2 separate regions of the Homo sapiens genome follow, and region 1 is linked to region 2. Evidence: fine-mapped expression QTL. A gene starts in region 2. The other region holds a variant in brackets. All regions are shown on one strand. Distances are between the middles of the regions. Region 1 has its middle 15 kb from the start of MIR548AE2. Region 2 holds the start of GAPT (GRB2 binding adaptor protein, transmembrane).

Evidence for each region. PIP is the estimated chance that this variant, and not a neighbour inherited with it, causes the effect. A credible set is the group of variants that fine-mapping cannot tell apart.
Region 1: its variant is the best candidate, but not a certain one, in a credible set for the expression of GAPT in monocytes (TOPMed, PIP 0.54).

Annotation. Positions count from the first base shown.
Region 1 is chr5:58,512,529-58,516,930 of GRCh38, reverse strand. No RefSeq gene overlaps it. Among named protein-coding and RNA genes, the nearest start is that of MIR548AE2, 15 kb to the left of the region's middle. The variant T/C (reference allele first, on the strand shown) is at 1,879.
Region 2 is chr5:58,489,573-58,493,974 of GRCh38, reverse strand. GAPT (GRB2 binding adaptor protein, transmembrane) reads right to left here and starts at 2,540. Exons shown (of 3, transcript NM_001304431.2): 1 at 2,434-2,540; 2 at 137-264.

The DNA.
Region 1 (4,402 bases), 23 kb before region 2:
TTTGTGGGTGACCTGGCCTTTTTCTGTGGCTTCCCTTAACATTTTTTCTTTCATTTTGACCTTTGAGAATCTAATGATTATGTGTCTTGGGGTTGGTCTTCTCATGGAGTATCTTACTAGGGTTCTCTGGATTTCCTAAATTTGAATGTTGGTTTTTCTTGCTAGTTTGGGGAAGTTTTCCTGGATGATATCCTAAAGTATGTTTTCCAACTTGGTTCTGTTCTCCCCATCTCTTTCAGGTACCCCAATCAGACCAATATACAGATTTGGTCTTTTTTCATAATCCCACATTTCTCAGAGGTTTTGTTCATTGATTTTTATTCTTTTTTCTCTATTCTTGTCTGCCTGTCTTATTTCAGAAAGACAGTCTTTAAGCTCTGAGATTCTTTCCTCTGCTAGATCTATTCTGCTATTGATACTTGTGATTGCATTGTAAAGTTCTTGTGTTGTGCTTTGAGCTCCATCAGGTCAGTTATGTTCTTCTCTAAAGTAGCTATTATGGTTTTCAGCTCCTGTATTGTTTTATCATGATTCTTAGCTTCTTTCCCTTGGGTTACAACATGCTCCTTTAGCTCAGCAAAATTCCTTATTACCACCCACTGAAGCCTACTTTTGTCAATTCAGCCATCTCAGCCTCAGCCCAGTTCTGTGCCCTTGCTGGGGAGGTGTTGTGGTCATTTGGTGGAGAAAAGGCACTCTGGTTGTTTGAGTTTTCAGTGTTTTTGTTTTGATTTCTTCTCATCATCGTGGGCTTATCCACTTTTAATCTTTGATGTTGCTGACTTTTGAATGGGGTTTTTGTGAGGTCTTTGTTGTTGTTGTTGTTTTCTTTTTTTGTTTGTTTTTCTTTTAACAGTAAGGTCACTGACTGTTAGCAACCATAGGGCTGCCGTGGTTTGCTGGAGGTTCCACTTCAGACCCTAGTTGCCTTGGGTTTTCTGATACCTGGAGCTATCACCAGTGAAGCCTGAGAAACAGCAAAGATCATAGCCACCTGTTTCCTCTGGAAGCTCCATCCCAGGGGTGTAACTGACCTGTTGTTGGCTGGAACTCTCCTGTAGATGTCTGGAAACTCCTGTTTGGGAGGTCTCACCCAATCGGGAGGAACGGAAGAGGGACCCTCTTACAGAAGCAGTCTGGCTGCTTTCAGTAGAGCAGGTGTGCTGCACTGGGGGGACCCTTCCTCATCGAGACCACCTGGACTCTCCAGAGTCAGCAAGTTGGAACAGTTGAGTTGACTGAACTGCAGAGATGGTGGCTGCCTCTCCCACTGGGAGCTCAGTTCCAGGAGAGATCACAGTTCTGTCCATATAAGCCTGACTTGTAACTGAAGGCCCCACCACAGGGAGGCCCCTCCCAAAGGGGAGGAATGGATTGGTGTCCTGCTTACAGAAGCAGGTGGAGCATAATCTGGCAAAGCAGGTGTGCTGCATTGTGGGGGACTCCTCCTCATCTGGACTACCTGGATTCTCCAGAGCCAGGAGGCTGTAATGCTGAGTCCACTGAACCACAGAAATGGTGGCCACCCCCCTCCCCGGGAACTCCCTCCCATTTCAGGCAGACTCAGCCTTTTGCCATTATCTGATTGGAAGTCCAAGCCGGTGGGTCTTAACTTGAGGTGCTGTGGAAGTGGGCCACAGAACAATGCTGCTTGGCTCCCTGGATTCAGCCACCTTCCTAGGGGAAGGTACAGATGAATCTGCCACCTTGCTGGGAATCCGAGGCCAGAGTATGTAAAACTCCTGGGTCTCTGTGTGTGCCTGAGTAGATGCTCTGCCAAAACTCCACACAGCTCTGTGTATCGGACCCAAGACCCTGGTGGTGTGGGCTCAGGAGGAGATCTCCTCATCCATTGGTTTCAAAGATCTGTGGGAGAAG[T/C]GTGGTTTCCCAGGCAAGGTCACACAATCATTTACCACTACCCTTGGCTGAGAGGGCTTCCTTTGGCTCTGTGCTGCTTCCAGGTAAACTGTTGCCCTACACTGCTTTTCTTTATTCTCCTTGGATTCAGTTGATTGCCTAGTCAGTCCCAATGCGAGAACCTGGATATTTCAGTTGAAGGTGATAAATTTACTCACCGCTTTCATTCCTCTCCATGATTGCTGCAGACCATAGCTGCTTCCGATTGGCCATCTTGTAAATAAATCTTCTAAATAAATTTTAAATAATTAAAATGTGCAAAATTTTGGGAAAATAAAATTTAAAAAATTGATCATTGCTCCCTAAAGAAATAATGTTTATGCCACATCACAATGTAACATCTTAGTGCTCTAGAGATTTTTTTTCATTAATTATCCACATGAGGCAGAAAATGAAATATCATAGTCCATTAAATTGTGTGACAGTTCACAAGTGCATGTAATAATGTAAACTCTTCATATTTTTATTAAAAGAGTAACAATCTATGAGCTTCATCTTCTACTAATGTGATTTGCCCCTAATGTGTGAGTTATGTTCTTTCTGGTGTCAAGAGCTGAAAGTGGGAATATGGAACAGGGCTAAAAGAAAAACTTCAGTATAAATTCTATTGTACCTTTTGAATTTTGAACCATATAAGTATATTATTGGGTGAACACGCCCCCAATATTTCAATGTAGGTTCTTTCTATTTTCCATAAGTGTCAGCCAGTCTGAGAAATAAAGAGAAAGAGCACAAAGAGAGGAATTTTACAGCTGGGCCACCGGGGGTGACATCACATATTGGTAGGACTGTGATGCCCACTTGAGCTACAAAACCAGCAGGTTTTTATTAAAGATTTCAAAAGGGGAGGGGGTGTAATTACAGGGAGTAGGTCACAAAGATCACATGCTTTAAAGGGCAAAATCAGAAACTCCTAAGGGTCTATGTTCAGTGGTGCATGTATTGTCTTGATAAACATCTTAAGAGAAAACAGGGTTTGAGAGCAGAGAATCGGTCTGACCAAAAATTTACCAGGCTGGAGTTTCCCAATCCTACTAAGCCTGAGGGTACTGCAGGAGACCAGAGTGTATTTCAGTCCTTATTTCAACTGCATAAGACAGACATTCCCAGAGCGGCTGTTTATAGACCTCCCTCTGGGAATGCAATTCTTTTCCCAGAGTATTAATATCAATATTCCTTCCTAGGAAAATAATTTAGCAATATCTTCCCTACTTGCATGTCCATTTATAGGCTCTCTGCAAGAAGAAAAATATGGCTCTTTTTCCCGACTCCACAGGCAGTCAGACCTTATGGCTGTCTTCCCTTGTTCCCTAAAATCGCTGTTATTCCGTTCTTTTTAAAGGTGCACTGATTTCATATTGTTCAAACACACATATTTTACAATCAATTTGTACATTTAACGCAATTATCACAGGGTCCTGAGGTGACATACATTCTCAGTTTATGAAGATAACAGGATTAAGAGATTAAAGTAAGACAGGTGTAAGAAATTATAAAAGTATTATTTCAGAAGTGATAAATGTCCACGAAATCTTCACAATTTATGTTCCTCTGCTGTGGCTCCAACCGGCCCCTCTGTTCGGGGTCCCTGGCTTCCCGCAATGATATATAACAATTAAAATTTAAAATTTAATCTCTTAAAATGTCACTTTTTAGTCAATTGATGTATAATGATTCTTGTCATGTTACATAAGTGTTAGTTATTATTATGAAGTGAATGAAGTAGTCTGACCAATGGGGTACTGGCCTTGAAGAAAGTGACAGAATAGCCTAAACAGATACCTGGGGCAGAACATTCCAGGAAGAGGAAATAATTAGTTAAAAGGTCTGAAAGACACTATTCTTCAATGTGTGAGGTCACTTTTAGAAATGAGATTATGGTGAGTTCCTTAAAAATGTTGTATCAGTTTGTTTACACACTGTTGATAAAGACATACCCCAAACTGGGAACAAAAAGAGGTTTAATTGGACTTAAACAGTTCCACATGGCTGGGGAAGCCTCAGAATCATGGCGAGAGGTGAAAGGCGCTTCTTACGTGGTGGTAGCAAGAGAAAAATGTGGAAGAAATAAAAGCAGAAACCCCTGATAAACCCATCAGATCTCGTGAGACTTATTCACAATCATGAGAATAGCATGAGAAATACCAGCCCCCATGATTCAATTACCTACCCCTGGGTCTCTCCCACAACATGTGGGAATTCTGAGAGATACAATTCAAGTTGAGATTTGGGCAGGGACACAGCCAAACCATATCAAATGTCCATTAAAAGTCATTGTCATGCAGATTGCCACCCAAGTATCCAATAGGATGATTTTATAACATTGCAAAGTAATGTAAAGTAAGTACTTTTGCTTTATTCTCTAAGTCCTTTCATCACTTGATTTCTCAAACTCAACTTCCAGTCAAGTGGCACCAATTGTCATTTTTAAAATGCCTGAAAGAATACTGTATAGCTGTGTACCATTAGTGTGCTGTCACTTTTT
Region 2 (4,402 bases):
ACCCTGAGTGGTTTTATCACTTAGATCTCCACATAGTTTTTGACAATTAGGATAACAATTTTTGAGTGAAAGATAATGTTCTGAGCACAATAGAAAAAAAGGGACATATACAGACACGTGCAATCATCTTTATTACCTGTCACCTCTTCTGTGAAGCCCTGCTTATCCTTTTTTGGAGCAGTCAGAGGCCATGTCTTTTTCTTAACCATTCCTTCCTCTGTAATCCCATATTAATGAGTCCATTCTCTATTATAGCGTGATAACCTAAATGAGAGAGAATTGTATTCTTACTTGGTTAAATGGTGGGCAGGGTTCAGGTCATTTCATCTGTATGTTCCCAGAGAATGGCACAACACCTAGCACAGAAAATGCATCCAATCAATATTTATTGAATGAAATAATGCATTTAAAAATGACTGCAAATGTCAGCATCTAATTGCTTAAGATGATAGTTTAAAACTCAAGGGTGTAGTTTATACTTAAAACATGAAATGAGATCTTTAAAGTAAACCAATGTATTTTCAAAATCCTTAGTATCACAGGTTTTCTCATAGCTTTCAGAAAATAACTTCCATGCAAGATGATTTTACATTGTTTTCTGTTGATGCTTTAAAATGGCAAGGAGACAAGAAGGGGAAGTGTTCAACTGGGCTGCATGTTCCATTGTGATTTTATCAACAAAACATTATTACTGTATATTTTCAGTCTAGACATAGACATAGATCCAACAGTGCCTGTGAAATGATTATTATCATCTATGGAATGTTATTATCATCAATAATGTTTAGTTAAGAGTTTCAGCTTTTAAAAACTGTTACAGGGATTATCTCATTTAATCCTATAGCTGCTATATGTAGTGGGTACTATTCATATCACCATTTTATAGATAAGAAGAGAGGCTTAAAGAAGTTAAGTAACTTCCTTACAACCAAAATGTGACTGAATGAGAATTCAGGTAAAAATTTCCCCAAAATATTATTTATCCAAATATCTGTAACATGCTACTAAGTGCATCAGTCAGAAAATTTGTATAGCTTGATTAGCTCTGAGGTTCTCGAAGGTTGGAAATCATATATTATTTACCTTTGTATTACCAACACCAGCATTAGACACAGAATGACTAATCTATTAGACATTTGTTAATGAATGAAGTAATCTCCTTATGGGATAATAATAGTAACAATGAGAAGAAAAATAGAAATTCACAAAGTGGTGCTCTGCTTTCAGTGAGTTTTCATGAAAAGTTTAATGGTAATGAACGTTCATAAATTTGTCCAAGGTTAGAATATATTAATATGCAAATATTTAATTTGACATTTCATAAAAGAAAATTAAATAAGATGTGCAGCTAATTTATACAATTTTTTGATAAAAATACAGGGACAAGCACCCCAGATGCAGAAACATTTTAATCTCCTTGGAATTTTTGGGAGTAATATTGAGGTTGAGAACTGTATGGTCCGCCACATAAGATTTACAATCTGCAGGGTCCCTCCTTTATAAGGCCAGCCGTGCTTGTGTTCAAGGACAAAAGTTTAGCCAAATGACTTTAATCATTAGGACCTCATTTCCTGTCTGAAACAGATGAGCACCAATTATCTGCAAGATATTTTATGGTATACATGGTTAATGATTTAAGAAGTTATTTGCCAGAATATTTGAAATAAATTTACAAAATACACTTTAAGTATTGATTGAAATTAATCAACTTTTTGAAAGATACTAGGCCTGCAACAGAAGTCACGGTGAGGGTTGAGGAAGGCTAACTATTGTCACTTCTGTAGCTGAGGATAAGGCAATAAATTACTCTCTTAATTTTTAAGAAGAAAAGGCATTTTTACCATCTATGTTATTCTATGTAGAGTAGAAATTCTGGTACATCCAAAATATTAAAATTGTTTGTCTAAGAGATATTTACCAAGATAAAGACAAGAAGACTTTTTACAGAAAAAGAAATGCATCATTTTCTTCGAAATAACATTAGAGGAAAAAACCTGTGAGACATGAACAAAGACCTACTATAATGAAAAACATATTTTAAACAATAACCATTCAAATATAGTTTAACACTTAAATAATGTTCACTTTGACCAGTTTGAAAGAAGACTCTGTTTTCATTTTGGAAAGCAGTTCCAACAGGTTACCTAACAATTTGACATTTTTCTTAAAATCGCAAATTGTTGAGAAACTTCAGGAATTTTCAAGTAAGAGAATGCCCTGCTGTTTGGAAACAAGGTAACAGCAAAGCATAATCATATTGTAAAGAAACATTAACATCACTCTCAGTTTGTAAATTGGGTTTCCCCCTTACAGCTACGTAAGGCATTTTTTTCTAAAAACTGTAGTAAGATAAAAATCATTGATTAATTAAAGACAAACTTGTTTCTTATAGTGTTTAATCATCCAAATACCTTAAATCAGGTTCTTACTTACCTCAAGATTGGTGTGTCAAGCTCTCTCTTTTGTTCTTTTGGTTATGTTTTAAACCTGCATTGGGTTAGAACTTGTTCCTCTTTTTCACTTTGGTGGGTTACTTCCTTCTTTCCCTCCTTCGTTCACGCTATTTAATACTTGCAAAGTTTCCTGGCTCTAGAGGAAGTCAGTATCAGATGCAGCAGAATTAAGATAAATGGCGTGAGGTTTTGAATAAGGAAGTCTGGCCCTTCATCTTTGTCAAGTAATAGTTTTTTAACTGTGTCAGAAAATAATACGTAAAGCCTACATGGTTTTTTATTTGGGCCATATTTGCAGTTCCCACTTTAATATCAATAAAAGTCACTTCACTTGTACTTTGATTTTTTAAAAAAAGAAATATTTTAATTGTAGTAACACATAGGTCTTGGGCTTTTATTATTATTATTATTATTTACTTGTGTTGCTAGACCAGTCCTCTCTTCAAATATTAATATTATGTACCAATGCTCCCAAGTTATAGCCATACAGGTCAAATCAGTGTCCCAATTTGGGTTTGGAAAATGTTAACGTTCTTTTAAATTTATAAATAGGAATTTCCTAAGGTATGTTTTGAGGCCCATTACCCCTGAGATATGCTAGCAGCTCTTCCATCAAGTAAATGTGGGGAATACTGCTTCCCTGGAGATTCATGGGTACATCAGCATGCTAAAGGCTCTCAGCAGTCTTACAGCCAGCAAACAAAATAAAACCAAATAAGAAAAAGAAATTGTTTAACTTTGCTTAATAATAGTAGTCAGTATGTTCCTAGCACTAAGTACTCCAAACCTTTTGTGTAATACTCAGCAAATCTTGGCAACAACCCTGTGAGGGAGAAAAACTGTTATTAGTCCTATTTTACAGAAGAGGAAACAGAAGCACACAGAATGATCACTTGCCCGACAGAGCCTGCAGTTTGCCCCCAGCACCTGTGTGCTAAACCACTGCACTGGCTGCCTTGCTAGATTGAGTAACATGTTTCCCACATAGATACGCTTACCAAGAGCATCTCTTGGAGTCCAACTCATGGGAACACACACAGTGGGAGATGCTGAATTAGACAAATTACAGATGAATTCGACAGATGAGATGACAAAGTAATGGAAAATTTGTCTTTTAAGTTGTCTTGGAACTTTTTGAACCACAGAGGATTAACTTTGCATAAGGTGGTTTTAAAAAAGAGGATTTAGTTACTGAAATAACTACTGGACATTGGAAGGACAGGACGTATTATTAACACTTGCTGAGCACTGACATTATGCCAGGCATTGTGCTAAGAGATGAGGATGCAAGAGTGAATAAGCTCCCTGCAGCACTTAAAGCCAAGTAGAGAGGCTGCTGCGCCCACAGAACATTTCAGATCAAAGTGATAATGCCTAAGAAAGACAGGATTATGGACAGGGACAGTGGAGGTAAAGGAAAGAGGCATCCAGCTCAGAGGGTGGTCAGGGAAGGCAAGACCTGAGCTAAGCCTCATAGAATAAGGTGTTAAGGCAGAATAGGGGTGTCCTGGACAAAAATCTTACAGTGAAGGAGGTTATGAAGTTGTGAAGCTATGAACTTGATGTGCTCCACATTCTCACCACTATATTTAACTTCAGTATTAGCCACCCCTCCAAATAATATACACACTCACCTGCCTAGGCATACATCTGTAAGAAAGGCAATTTATACAATGTTTGTATAAAATTATGATTTTCTCTAGAAGGCAGGACAACTGGTGCTCATTCAGCTTTTGCCCTTTGAAGTTAAAAAAGTTGCTTAACCCCTTATTACTTTAGTTTTTCTAACGGAAAATAAAATGGAGGGAAAATGACTGGCACTTTCCTCAAATAGAATTTTTTTGATGTAATGGATATAATTATTCTTCAAGTTTATAAAAGAAATGCTGTATATATTCAAAATAGAATTATTGGATCATTGTCATTTGTAGGGATTATGTTTTATGTCT